Homo sapiens: one gene and its partners. The protein of the gene in region 3 interacts with the protein of the main gene of each other region in a biochemical or structural test. Each region holds a gene or a part of one and is shown on either strand. Other genes may lie near its edges.

Evidence for each region. Proteins that work in one complex are often made in the same cells at the same time.
Region 1: of the proteins of PTPRJ (region 3) and PDPK1, one has a biochemical effect on the other in vitro, tested with the Homo sapiens proteins (one large-scale study listed by IntAct).
Region 2: of the proteins of PTPRJ (region 3) and TIE1, one has a biochemical effect on the other in vitro, tested with the Homo sapiens proteins (one large-scale study listed by IntAct).
Region 4: of the proteins of PTPRJ (region 3) and LEPR, one has a biochemical effect on the other in vitro, tested with the Homo sapiens proteins (one large-scale study listed by IntAct).

Annotation. Positions count from the first base shown.
Region 1 is NC_000016.10:2,597,021-2,600,354, reverse strand, and holds part of PDPK1 (3-phosphoinositide-dependent protein kinase 1), read right to left. Parts: intron 3,233-3,334; coding exon 3,080-3,232; intron 2,705-3,079; coding exon 2,588-2,704; 3' UTR 1-2,587. UniProt on the Homo sapiens protein: Serine/threonine kinase which acts as a master kinase, phosphorylating and activating a subgroup of the AGC family of protein kinases.
Region 2 is NC_000001.11:43,314,482-43,317,981, reverse strand, and holds part of TIE1 (tyrosine-protein kinase receptor Tie-1 isoform 1 precursor), read right to left. Parts: exon of another isoform or gene 2,683-3,500; intron 784-2,682; coding exon 573-783; intron 419-572; coding exon 308-418; intron 101-307; coding exon 1-100. UniProt on the Homo sapiens protein: Transmembrane tyrosine-protein kinase that may modulate TEK/TIE2 activity and contribute to the regulation of angiogenesis.
Region 3 is NC_000011.10:47,987,059-47,990,558, forward strand, and holds part of PTPRJ (receptor-type tyrosine-protein phosphatase eta isoform 1 precursor), read left to right. Parts: intron 1-3,500. UniProt on the Homo sapiens protein: Tyrosine phosphatase which dephosphorylates or contributes to the dephosphorylation of CTNND1, FLT3, PDGFRB, MET, KDR, LYN, SRC, MAPK1, MAPK3, EGFR, TJP1, OCLN, PIK3R1 and PIK3R2. Plays a role in cell adhesion, migration, proliferation and differentiation.
Region 4 is NC_000001.11:65,633,668-65,637,167, reverse strand, and holds part of LEPR (leptin receptor isoform 1 precursor), read right to left. Parts: exon of another isoform or gene 1,740-3,500; intron 978-1,739; coding exon 153-977; 3' UTR 1-152. UniProt on the Homo sapiens protein: Receptor for hormone LEP/leptin. On ligand binding, mediates LEP central and peripheral effects through the activation of different signaling pathways such as JAK2/STAT3 and MAPK cascade/FOS.

The DNA.
Region 1 (3,334 bases), on a different chromosome or scaffold from region 3:
AGAAGCCGCACAGTGTGGTCCCGACATTCCACCTGTCCTTGCCCATGTGTGGGGAGGCACATGGCCCCAAGTCTATTAAACAGCAGGTGAAATCTTCCTCATCTTGGATAAACCCACAACTGTAATTCCACGTAAGTGTGTCTATGTGCACACACAGTACCCCACGTTCTACCGTAGAATGTAAGGCGCCTGCGTGCCAGGTGATGGCTCTAAGGATGTGGTAGAGAAAACCGGAGTAGACATGAGCAAGCACAGGGTAAGGAAAGAAAACACACGGGCCTTTCAAAAGGGAAGAGCAAGGGGCTGGGTGAGGAGAAAGGTGACCCACAGAAGGGCTTGGCTGTCAGCTCAGGCAATGGCATCATTTTGGCTGGCGGCTGCCAGCTCTGGCTCTGAGCCCCTAGTTCTGTGGCTTTGGAGGTTAAGATGGAGCTTGTCAGTGACGCCCAGGAGGTGGTGGTTCTATCCAGAGGAAGAACGCACGGAAGAGTCTCCCCAAGCAGCCCAGCCGAGTGCTCCAATTAAAGCCACGTCCCTGCTCCACTTGTTTCCCTATAACCAGACGCCCTGAGAGATCTGAGAGAGCCACTCTCCTACATGGAGACACAGGACGTTCTGAGATGGGTAAAATAGCTGATGAGGAGGAGGAAGCCTGAACAGAAATTCCTGAAAGGGCTAAGAGAGACTCCCCAACACAGCCAAGCCTTTCCAAAAGCCAGGAGGAGGAGAGAGGACTCCGACTCCGGCCACAGGCCCAGGGCAACGTGCTGGGCCCCGGAGCGTCCTGCTCCCTGGGGCCCCAGGGTAGGTGCGGCCCAGCTCACCCCAGCTCACGGTCACAGGCTCACATGCAGCTCTCACACAGCAGCAGCCAAGGCCCAGGCAGGAACCACAGGCAGGGCCTGGGGAACATCTCTGCCCCCTCCCAGGCCCCGTCTGTACTCGCCTAGCTAAAAAGAGCCACTCTCGTCATTAGCAGTGTAAAAACGACACCTTCCCTCTCAGTTTGGATCTGGCCTGGCACACAGGGTCACTGCTGAGTCACCTGTGACTTGGGGGTAGGGACCAGGGAGGGTGGACACAGTTGAGTCAGAGGCAGGTCTGTGGGCAGCAATGTCTGCCTCTCCCCCAAAGGGAGTGAGGGCTGCCCTCCAGGGACAACCTGGGCAGGGAGAGAAGGGCCCAGACCTGCCAGGCCACCAGGAGCACTCTCTACCTGGGGAGTAGCTAGGCAAAGGACAAATGCATCTGGCCTGTCTGTGCTGCAGAGCGGGGCAAGGCCACCAAAGCATCAAAGGGAAATGGCCCCAAAACCGGCTCTCTCTAGAGGAAAGCCGACCAGCAAGCTGGGGTTGAAGTGTGCTGTTCTCGCCTCCTGTGCAACAGCAACTGGCAAAGCCCACTCTATGGGCCCAGATGAGCCGGCAGCATGAGAAGGCTGTGAGATTTCTGATGCACAGATGTAGAAGCTCTGAGGGGCTCTGAGAAACTTGAACCAAAACACAAAAGGGGCGTGTGTGACGGTGGTGTCTGCACTCCCTGGCGTGGTCTGCAGGAGACAGAAGCACCCTGGGTCTGCTGATGCCAGGGTTCTCTCAGACCCTACTTCAGCAACTGGAGAGGCGTGGACATTTAAACCTTTTAGGAGGCCCTCAGGCCTCTCTGCTCCACACGGAAGTCAGCAGCCCTCTCTGCTCTGGCTGGCTTCTCCAAGGCACCTCCTGGCCCCACCTAGGGCTCGGGGCAGGACTCTCTCGTGCAGTGAGCCAGCGGGGTACTAACTGGGCTCACTTCTGACAGTACCGCTCCCAGCATGCGCTCGGCTTCCAGCCCCAGAGACCAACACTGCTAAGTAGGATAAGGGATCCGGAGCCCTCGATGGCACCCTCCACTCGGCAGCCTGCTCCCGCACCACTCCAACCCCTCCCGCTCCTCACCACGCAAACCTGCCTGCCAACACAGCAGGGGCCACAGAAAGCTGCCACCAGAGCCACCACAGGGATATGTAATGGGCCCAGCCAGGCCTAAGGGCCCATCACAGGGAGACGCAAGAAAGGGAGCAGGTGACAGAAGCACGGCGGCTCCCTCCACAAAGCTGCGGCCCCCGCAGGGCTCCCTCCCTGGTGAAGAGTTCCAGGACCACAGCGGGAGGGGCATAAAGAGCCAAACACACCCGGTCCCCTCGGCCACAGCAGGACCAGCACACAGTTGGGGCAGGGCGGGCGCATGGTTCGGACTGATGCTAGGAAAAACTGGTGACACCAGGTCTGTCCACTAGTCTGGGCGGGACTGGGTTGACGTGCATGGAGCTGGGTCCCCACGGCAACGAGGGCACACGGAGGCCTCCACGGAGCACAGAGAGCAAGCAAAGCGACCCTGAATTCCTTTGTGTTTGTTACTGGTTTTGTTCTTTGTGTGGTTGGGTGTTTTTTTTCTTCTTTTCTTTTAAATAAAAATGCTGCAAGGTTTCCGCCTCTGCGTTCCCCTTGTGATGGCTGGCAGGTGGTCTGGAAGCGTCCCGGATGGCGGCCAAGCCGCGCTGGGGCAGGTGTCCTGGCAGCGAAGGGCAGCCCGGCCGCAGGCCACGTCACTGCACAGCGGCGTCCGGGTGGCTCTGGTATCGCTGCCTCCAAACCTCCTGGATCTTCCTGCACCACTTGTGTGCGTTCCCGCTGGGGTCCATCAGATAATACGTCCTGTTAGGCTGCGAAGACAGAAGCCGTTTAGTGTTCTCCAGGGAGTCCCACCAAAACCCCCACCCCAACCTGGTGAGCTGCCTGCGACCAGCCATTCCGAGTCCTGAAAGCACGTGGGTGTGACGGTTATTCACACAAGCAGTAAGCAACTACACAGGCTGATGACCACCACCCCCAGTCACCACCAAACTGAAAAACAAGCACAGGGTGTCCCCTGCCCCCTCAGGACTGAGCCACTAGTGTGGGCGTCTGGGATGTCGGAAAGGGCGAGGCAGCTGCCCCGATCCCCGCTGCTCCCTCTGGCCAAGGCCTGTGGCTGCTTCCCACGTGGTGCAAAGCCCTCCCATTACCCTGCACACAGAAATCCCTGGGAACAGACTCACCGTGTGGACAAAGAAAGTTTTAAAATTCTTGGCCTCTGGTCGAAGTTCTTGTGACCAAGGAATTTCACCTTTCAGAACTTTGTTGACAGGATCCACATAATATAAATGTGGTCCTTCTGTGAGCAACAGCTGTCGTCGTCTTGCAAATAAACCCTGACGCCAAAACACAAAACAACAGGCCTCAGAGGCCAGTGCTGACGGCATCTCCTGGAGCCTAGAGGGCTGGGCGGCCCCTCGGAGCTGCTCAGGACACAG
Region 2 (3,500 bases), on a different chromosome or scaffold from region 3:
TCTCGAGCAAAAGCTGGGTCAGTCTCTAGGACCCGGCTTTTCCGCAGAAAATCTAGCAGGTTCCCGTAGGGGGCATATTCAATAGCGATATACAAGTAACCTGAGAGGCAAAGAGACAGACAGTGGTGATTTAGACACAGGCAACCTAGGGTGGGAGCAGGCACCCGATGGTAACAGACAGGGATGAAGGAGGATCAAGGGTGGTGCACAGGTCACCAGCAGCCCCTGGCAAGCTACTCATGTGGTGGAGGTGATGGCTGAGGATGGGGGTTTGGAAGAAGGGGTAGGTGATGAGCTGGGGGCTCACCTCGGTTCTTACAGGCCCCCAGGAGGTTGATGATGTTGGGGTGATGCCCCAATTTGCACAGAACTTCCAGTTCTCCCGCAAAGTCACGATGGTCATTTTCAGAGGCATACTCTGTGTAAAGAATCCAATATTATTTTGCCAGAAATAACTCTGGAGAAAGGGCTGGCAAGGGCTGGGGTCAATTGCTGGAGGAAGCCAGGTGGGGCCTGGGATTTGTGGGACAAAGGAGAGCATCAGGGCTGGGCCAGGGGTCGCCCCAGTGGACCTTTCAGCATTTTGATGGCTGCGTTCATCTTCAGCCCGTCCTTCTTGATCATGGCCCGGATGACCTGGCCGAAGTTCCCCTCCCCGATGAGGTCCTCAAAGGTGATGTCCTCCCACTCTAGCACTGGGTAGCTCAGGGGCTCGGGCTGCAGTTTTGGCCGCCGGGTAAGTGTCAAGGTCCCTGAGCTGAACTGCAGGATGGTCTCCTCGCCCTTCACAGGATGAGACAAGAGGGCAGACGGTCCACGCAAGAGTCAAAGGGGGCGGAAGGAGGCACAGACAGGCACACGAGGAGGTTTCAGTGTCAGACAAGTGGGCAGAGACCCAGATGGAGGGCACCCTGGTGGTCAGCCAGGGACAGACAGGCAGACAGAGGACATAACTGAGACAGAATCATAGGTAACAGAGCCACAGGTAGGCTGCTGGGTGGACAGATGTCCAAGGAGAGAAATGCAGAGGCTGCAGCCAGGGGATCTAGTGTACGGGACTCTGGAAGGCAGAACCAGGGCTTGTGGGTAAAGTTGCTAGAAGCCACAATGTGAGTCAATGGAAGGAGGATATTTCTAACATTTAAAACAGAAAAGGATCGGAATGAGCTTCCTATGACTGTGCTAATCCTACAACCAGGCTTTTTGTTGTTGTTGTTGTTGGGGGTCACCAGGGAAGCTCTGGAGAAGATTCCAGCCTTAGGGAGTAGGCCAGGGGACATTTATTGAGCACCTACTACATGCTCAGCCCTGAGCTGCTGGGAGCCAGTGGAGGGGTTTTCTCCACAGTAGCAGAAGCAGAGATTACCCTGTCCACACACTTGGCTTTTCTCCATAGCTCTAAAATCAGGCCAGGACCTGAAAATAGCAAGACTATAACAAAGAGGAATGTCCAATTTCCTAACTCAGTAGGAGGAGGCCATCTGGGTGGGGCTGATGGTGGGAAAAGGAAATAAGTGAACAGGACCAAAGAAACTGCCAATATGAGAACTGGAAGCAGGGTTAAGACAGACCTTCTGGTGGGGCTTCCTAAGTGCACTGAAGTCCAGCTTGATGGGCAAGGGCTGAGGACCTGGGGCCCAGGGATTTGCAAGAAGCACTGGTGCTGACGGCACATAGCAAATGCACGTGATGTTCTTGGGCAGCACCATATGTAGGTGCATCATGTATAGGTCCATACACACATGCAGGCCTGAAGGTGCACAGGCATAGGGACACGTGCATCTGGGACACACGCATTTAAACATGTGGCACTCACAGGGGATGCACGTGTGCACTCATACATGGAGCACACACATTTGTGCACACACGTTTCCTATCCATATGCAGGCACATGTACCAGGGATATATCTTTTTGTTTGTTTTGAGACAAGGTCTCGCTCTGTTGCCCAGGCGGAAGGGCAATGGCACGATCTCAGCTCATTGTTACCTCGAGCTTTTGGGCACAGGCAATCCTCCCACCTCAGCCTCCCGAGTAGTTGGGACCACAGGTGCACACCTCCACGCCCATCTAATTTTCATATTTTCTTTTATTGTAGAGATGGGGTTTTGCCATGTTGCCCAGGCTAGGGGGATATATCTTGATATAGAGTATGACACCATGTATGTTAAGGACTGCTTTCCCACCTCCTGCCCTCGACATCTGTACCCATTACCCTCCCCCACCACAGCAGTGAGGGCTTTCTGTGTGCACTGACCTCAGAGGAAGAGCCAACACAGCTTGGAACAAAGAAGCCAATTGAATCTCTGAATGGATTTTTTTTTTTGAGATGGAGTCTCACTCACTCTGTCATCCAGGCTGGAGTGCAGTGGCGTGATATTGGCTCACTGCAACCTCTGCCATCCGGGTTCAAGCAGTTCTCCTGCCTCAGCCTCCCTAGTAGCTGGGATTACAGGCTCCTGCCACTGTGCCTGGCTAATTTTTGTAGCTTTAGTAGAGATGGGGTTTCACCAACTGGGCAGGCTGGTCTTGAACTCCTGACCTCATGATCCACCCGCCTCAGCCTCCCAAAGTGCTGGGATTACAGGCATGAGCCACCACGCCCGGCCTCTGAATGGATTTTTCAAAGGCATAGCAGAGACACTAGGCTTTCTATCACAAGGATCAGCCCTTGAGAGAGAAGAGGGTTTTCTTTCTTTTTTTATTTTTTATTTGAAATGCCAAAGCTTAGCTCTAAATATCAAGAGTCCAGGCCTGGAAGGCCAAGGACAGAGTTCAGATCCTAAGTGACGACAATGAAGAAGCCCTCAGAGGAGACAGGACCTGCGGATGGGCGGCTAGAATGTGACAGGATAAAGTGACAGTGGGTGCCCTCCCACACCCCACCTCTAAGCAGGGGCCTGAGGGACAGAAGGGTGTGGGCTACAGGAGGACAGACAACTCGGGCAGGATTACAGGGAAGCCAGGAGGAGTGGAGGTTTGTGCTTCCTCTTTCAAGGAGCAGGCCAGCACAATTCTGGAGTGGTAGAAACAGTTGTCTAAGTGGGAAGGGGTTGTGGCAGCGGTCTGAGGGCCACAGAATATGCCTCCTTCCATAAGGTATAAGGAAGCCCCTACAGTTCTTTAGTTCTGTTTCTTTTTCTTTTTTAATTTTTTGAGACAGGGTCTTGCTCTATTGCCCAGGCTGGAGTGCAGTGGCAACATCTCGGCTCACTGCAACCTCCGCCTCCCGGGTTTAAGCAATTCTCCTGCCTCAGCCTCCCGAGTAGCTGGGATTACAGGCATGCACCACCACGCCTGGCTAATTTTTGTATTTTTAGTAGAGACAAGGTTTCACCATGTTGGCCAGGCTGGTCTCAAACTCCTGACCTCAGGCGATCCACCCGCCTCAGCCTCCCAAAATGCTAGGATTACAGGTGCAAGTCACTGTGCCCAGCCCCTTTCTTAAGTCTCCAAAAGGAGGCCCTGGGATTTGCAAGAATGAAGGTTAGGATGAGGAGCT
Region 3 (3,500 bases):
TTAGCTGGGCATGGTGGTGTGGACCTGTGGTCCCACCTACTTGAGAGGCTGAGTTGGGAGGATGGCTTGAGCCCTGGGAGGTTGAAGCTGCGGTGAACCTTGATAGCGCCACTGCACTCCAACCCAGGCAACAGAGTGAGACCCTGTCTCAAAAAGAAAAAAAATAAAAAATAATTTATTTTAGGGGGTCTTAGTAAAGAAAGACCCCCAAAAGTCCATGATTTTATAGGTCGAATGAGGTGAAAAGTGGTATCATGATAAATAAATTTGTTTAAATATCATAAAAAGTTGGTCTAAAGAAAAACATTGGGTAAATAATTATGTGAGTATGATGTGGTTATGACCAAATTGTAAAGATGATCAGTTTCTTAAGTCTGGGGGACAGGCACTGAGCAGAGGCCGTGGTGGGGAACAGGAGCCTGTCTTCATGGCTCTTACTGGCCACTGGGCAAGACTCAGATAGCACCAACCAACCAGTCACAGTTGTGATGTAGGATGTGACTGTGAATGACATCCCTGCTGCCCGCTTCAGAGAAAGGGCTGCCACTTGCCAGAGAAGGAATGGTGATAATGAGGGACAGCCAGTCCCTAAGTGGAGATCCCTGAAAGTGGTGAATATCTTAGACCAGAGAAGCCCAGAGCAGTTTTTTTACCACCTTGTATGGCTGGTTTTCCAGTGGCTTTACTGGTGCCCCCTCGGAGGACAGGGGCTGTAGGAAGTTTGTTATTACTTCCTTATTAGTGACAGCTGCAGTCATCCTATTGTCTCAGAATTTCCCTGGCATGTAAATGGTAGGATAAGGGGTGGTGGTAAGCAGATGGGGGGCATTTTGAAAACGAGGCAGTGTCAGCTCCCACAGAAGGTCTAATTTTAAACATGCAAATAATTTTCAGTTCCACTTTTCCTTCTTCCTGTTAGAGGGAAGTTGTCCCCTGTTGCCATTTCTGAAACTTGGGCGGACAATGTCGTTATTGTGTTACAAACGATTTGCGTCTCCAGGGCAGGAGTTGGGTGATATTTTTCTGGGAGCCTGTGCCAGGGCGTAGCCCAGTGTTATCTCATGGTTTCTGAGTGAATGAGTGAGTGAGTATTAAAACTTCATATCAACATGGAGCCTATAACACAGTGGTTCTGAATCTTTCTTGGGGGGGAAAAGAAGAGATACAAGACCCCTAGAGAGTATAGAGAGTATGTAAAAGGGAAGAATCCTTCCCCAAAAGGGAATGCACATATTTACAATATTGTATCCAATTTCAGAAGGTTTTTTTAAAATTTTTAATTTTATTGTTTTTTTTTTGAGACACGGTCTCAGTTTGTACCCCAGCGTGGAGTGCAGTGGCATGATCTTGGATCTCGGCTCACTGCAGCCTCTGCCTCCTGACCTCAGGTGATCCACCCACCTCGGCCTCCCACAGTGCTGGGATTACAGGTGTGAGCCACCATGCCTGACCATGACTAGTGTTTTGATGTGTGGATTTACTACAATTTATTTGACCATTCTCCTATCAATGGACACTTTAGTTGTTTTAGTACACCTCCCTGTCCCGTCACAAATCATACTTTGTAATGTTTCTGGTGGATATTTCTTGTAACCTTCACAAGTTTATCTGTAGAGTAAATTTCTAGTTTCAGGATTACTGGATTGGAAGATGCATGCATTTAAAAGTGTGATTGCTGTTGTCAGGTTGTCCTCCAAAAGTGTCCCCTCAGTTTGTACCTGTATCCATAGGTTTGGAGAGTGTCTGTTTCTCCATACCGTCTCATCTGAAATGAAAATTTTTACATGTTTGCTAGTCTGAAAGGTGAAAAATTGTATCTTGTTTTTTTTTTTTTTTTTTTTTTTTTTGAGACGGAGTCTTGCTCTGTTGCCCAGGCTGGAGTGCAGTGGCGCTGGGCTCACTGCAAGCTCCGCCTCCCAGGTTCATGCCATTCTCCTGCCTCAGCCTCCCGAGTAGCTGGGACTACAGGCGCCCGCCACCAAGCCCAGCTAATTTTTTGTATTTTTAGTAGAGACGAGGTTTCACCGTGTTAGCCAGGATGGTCTCGATCTCCTGACCTTGTGATCCGCCCGCCTCGGCCTCCCAAAGTGCTGGGATTACAGGTGTGAGCCACCGCGCCTGGCCGTATCTTGTTATTTTTATTTATATCTTTAATTTTGAGTTAGTTGAGTTTTTTGGTCATTTGCCTCTGCTTCTTCTTCTTTTTTTGTTTTCTTTTTTTTTTTGAGACAGAGTTTTGCTCTTGTTGTTCAGGCTGGAGTGCAATGGCGTGATCTTGGCTCACTGCAACCTCCACCTCCCAGGTTCAAGTGATTCTCCTGCCTCAGCTTTCTGAGTAGCTGGGATTACAGGCGTGTGCCACCACGCCCAGCTAATTTTTTGTATTTTTAGTAGAGATGGGACTTGTTCCTTAGGAACCATGTTGGCCAGGCTGGTCTTGAACTCCTGATCTCAGGTGACCCACCTGCCTCGGCCTCCCAAAGTGCTGAGATTACAGGCGTGAGCCACTGTGCCAGGCCCCATTTTTTGTTTTTTGGTTAACTCCCTGTTCATTAAAAAAAAAAAATCTATATCTATAGATAGATAGATATAGATATAATCTTTGTTATCAATTTGTATAAGCTCTTTGGAAATTAGTCCTTCGATTGTCATTTGTATTGCAAACACATTCCCCCTCCCCCATGCCAATTATTTTAGATGTAGCACTTGTTCCTTAGGAACTCAGAGATAAATAAGACCCTAGGGTGGTGAAGAGAGCATAGAATTTGGAACAAGACTCCTTTGTTGGAGTCTTGGCTCTACCACCTCATTAGCTGTGTGATCTTGGGCAGGTATCTTGACCTTTCTGATCCTTGCTCTTCATATTCCAAAAATGCTAATAATAGGAGTACCTCTGACACAGGGTAGTTGGAGAAGCTAAGTGTGATCATATTATGCTAAAATTCCTTGTAAATGGCTATGGAAACATAAACACAGCATTTTATAAAATACCACGAGGTATTCCATTTACTGAAGAGTTACATCAGAAGAGTATTTCTGATTGTGCCACTGCACTCCAGCCTGGGCGACAGACTGAGATTCCATCTCAAAAAACAAACAAACAAAAAACTAGCCAGTCATTTATAAGAATGAGTTACAGCTATAGGTGCAGGCGGTAAATACTCTCCAAGATATCTAAATAAATTAAAAGGCTATGTAGAGAACAATGTATATATAATGTTACCTTTAAAGTGACAAAAAAAGGTGAATATAGATACTTGTGTATCAGAAGAGAGAGGTATTCCATTTACTGAAGAGTTAGGGCAAAGACCATAATATTGTAATTATCAATAATTATGAATTGTCAAAATTATGTCATGAAACCTCTTTTTTTCTTTTTTTTGAGGGGGAGTCTTGCTCTGTCACCCAGGCTGGATTGCAGTGGTGTGATCCTGGTTCACTGCAACCTTTGCCTCTGAGGTTCAAGTGATTCTTCTGCCTCAGCCTGGGATTACAAGCAT
Region 4 (3,500 bases), on a different chromosome or scaffold from region 3:
GTTACTAAGAGAGAACAAACAGACAACATTCATTTGGAACAATTATTTTCAAATTTGACTCTGGTTTCTTTTCTCTCTCCCACCCACAACTATAATCTATTACACTTTATATTACCCATTATAACACAAATCTGAAGGTTTCTTCAGTGAAATTACACAGTTAGGTCACACATCTTGTTTTCCATGATCTTATGAGTCTGAGTAGAACAAGTTTGGAATTGAGGCATGTAAGATGCAAAAGTCTTCTTACTAGAAGTTCCTAAGTTGATATTATTTTCTACAAAGTGTGAGCAACTGTCCTGGAGAACTCTGATGTCCGTGAATAAACAGGGGGCTGGGAATGGGCACGATACCCTTGACTTGTCAGTCAAAAGCACACCACTCTCTCTCTTTTTGATTGAGGTGACCCCTAAATAATAGATAGACTTTTTATCATTATTTTCTTCAGGGAAATTTCCCTCCAATTTCAAAAGTTCATCCAATCCTTCTGAGAATGTGAGGTGTGGTGAAATTATGTTGGGATGCTGATCTGATAATATAAAAAATGCCTGGGCCTCTATCTCCCATGAGCTATTAGAGAAAGAATCCTTCAACGGAGAATTTTTGCTAGAGAAGCACTTGGTGACTGAACTATTTATAAGCCCTTGTTCTTCACCAGTTTCACTTGGTTTAGAGTTGCTGATCAGCGTGGCGTATTTAACAAAGGGTTGTCTCTGGCTTTCGTCCTCATAGGTTACCTCAGTACCCTCAGCCTCAGAGAAGTTAACACTGTTGAACTGGTCACTAATACAAACAGAACCCTTTTCAAGATCTGTTGTTGAAAGTAGAGAGACCACAGTTGTTGGCATCATCTCATCTTTATTTTTCCATGATGTATCAACACTGATATCTTCTGAAATTGTTTCAGGCTCCAAAAGAAGAGGACCACATGTCACTGATGCTGTATGCTTGATAAAAAGATGCTCAAACGTTTCTGGCTAAAAGAAAAGACACATTTTAAGGCTCAATTATGTTAAAAAATTTTGCTTCATTATGTCATACTGGCAGAAATGGAAGTGTGTTAAGTTAATAATAAAGAACATAAGTCAACCACAAATTAACTAGTTTTTGACTAAAATACATATATCAAAAAGCATAAGGAAGAGCCCGTTTAAGATGATAGCATTTGAAAGTGGGACAAGACAGACTTAGACTTGAGTTCTTCCAATTCTACAACCATGAACAAGTACACTAACCTCTCTGCCTTTCAATTTCATCATCTCTAAAAATGTGCTTCATGGTATTGTGGCTAGAAATAAATTAGTGTCTGCAAGTGCTTAGCTCTCAGGAAAGATTGGTTACTGTCATTGGAAAATGCTATCTTCTGAAGATATTTCCTTCCTAATATTTTGTAGCAAATTACATTCCCATAAACTAAAAATGTTAGCCCAAAATAGAAAAAAGTGGATTGAAATGAAATGACCAAAATAACTTGTCTAAAAACAGTTAAAATAACTATGTTGTGAAATAAGATATGGTATGAAAGTAAAATAATTGTGTTGACTATTAAAAACTTATCTGCTGTATACTGAGAATCTGCTTGAGACTATCTGAAAATAAGAGCTAATAATATCATATGTAGAGAACAATGATGATGAAAGAGATGATCACAAACTGGTAAATTACTATTCCTTATAAATAACTTCACGTAAAAATATTTACTATGGACATGTGAAATGAAGACAAATACACAAGACAAATGTACATCATATTTTTTATAGAAGTGATTATATCACAAAGAAAAATCCTGCCAAACAACTACAAATCAAGAATCTGTGGGCAAAAAGCTCAATTCATACAATGTAAACACATTGAAAAAACAAATGCAAAATAAAAAAAGCTGTTGATACATCACCTTGAAAAATTAACACAACTAAATTAAGGGCTATAGAAAATGTGTTCAGCTTATATATCATACACGTCATTTAACTTGAATTTTACAATTTTTAAACTAATAGAATTCAGATTTATTACTTGAAATAATGGTATACCCAGCTGTTCTTCATAATGGCAAGCATATTCCATATACAATACAATTTATTTAGCATAGTTTTATACTCTTAAGTAAAATATGTTAGTGATTAAAAGCATAAAGGAATAAATATGCCAAGCGCAAAATATAATAATGGAATAGACTTATGTAGGTATTAAAATACTGCATAATGACAAATACTGAATTAATACAACTTTCCTATTATTCATAATCATAATATATGAAGAGAAAACTGTTCCTATGCCTGTTTTTTTTTTCTGAAAGAAATCTATGGTTTTATACATTTCTTCAAATATTTGCTTGCTCATTTTCTTTTTTCTTAAGGCTTCTACTATATATGCACTGAACTGTCTTAAAATTTAAATGAACCTACATATTAAGATTGTCAAAAGAATTAGATGCTATCAATATGAAAACAAGGAATACATACAAAAAAACCATAACCATAGTCAAGATTACATATGTCCTTCAAATGATGTGTTTGATATATTTCATGCTAAAATGTCATACTCAGTAACTGTTGAAAGCAAATACTGTAAATGCCTTCCAATGCATTCAGATAGAATATTTCACTCATAATTGATAAGAAATCTCATACTCATATACTATTGAAATATGTTTTGTCAGTGAGTTATAAAACTTTATTAAAAGTATATCCATTTAAAAAATTTCACTATATGCATCTTTTTTTAAGATTTTAGAATAATCTGGGCACATATTAAATATGTGTTGAGTGGGCAGTAATTAAAGAATGTCCTTTCATAATTTCATACTTAGATTTTACATTTCAATGACACCTATTAGAAGTCAAGAAGGGAAGAAAGACACATTCTTCCCGTTTTTGTAGAGTTCTTTTCTACTTTCAAATAAAACTACGAGTTAAATCTAAATATAAGGGATCCATATATACATATATACGCATATATAATAAATTTGAATACTGAGTTCATTAAACATAGTCGTTGGTTTGGTTTGAATGTGAGCAACGCAGCATAATTCGTGTGCTGAATTCATAAAACTAGCAAGCAGTCTGTCTGAAAGTAGAAAAGTTCTGTCCTCACCATGAACTATTCATAAAAGCTCCAAAGAGTCTCCCTTTTTTGCATCACTGCCCATTTCCCTGCCTGCCAGAGGTCTTGGATGGTTCAGTGGAAGTAAATTAGATTTAGGTCATAATTAAACAAGAAAGCTGGATTAGAAGTCGATGTTCCCTTCTGGTCCCGTCAATCTGACCTGGGTATGTAGGGTCATCCTGATATGAACTGTAACTCCCACTGTCCTGTGGGCAGCACAAACACAACTTCGGGCTTCCTTTTAACTGAAACGGAAGTTATCACTTAAGCCATTTTCAAGGATATTGAAAACTGAAATTCCCAGATTGAACAAAGTTAGATACAAAAATGCCAGGAGATATTCAAAAGAACACCCGAATAGGCTGATTTTTAGGCTGACGTGTCTATAAAGGAAT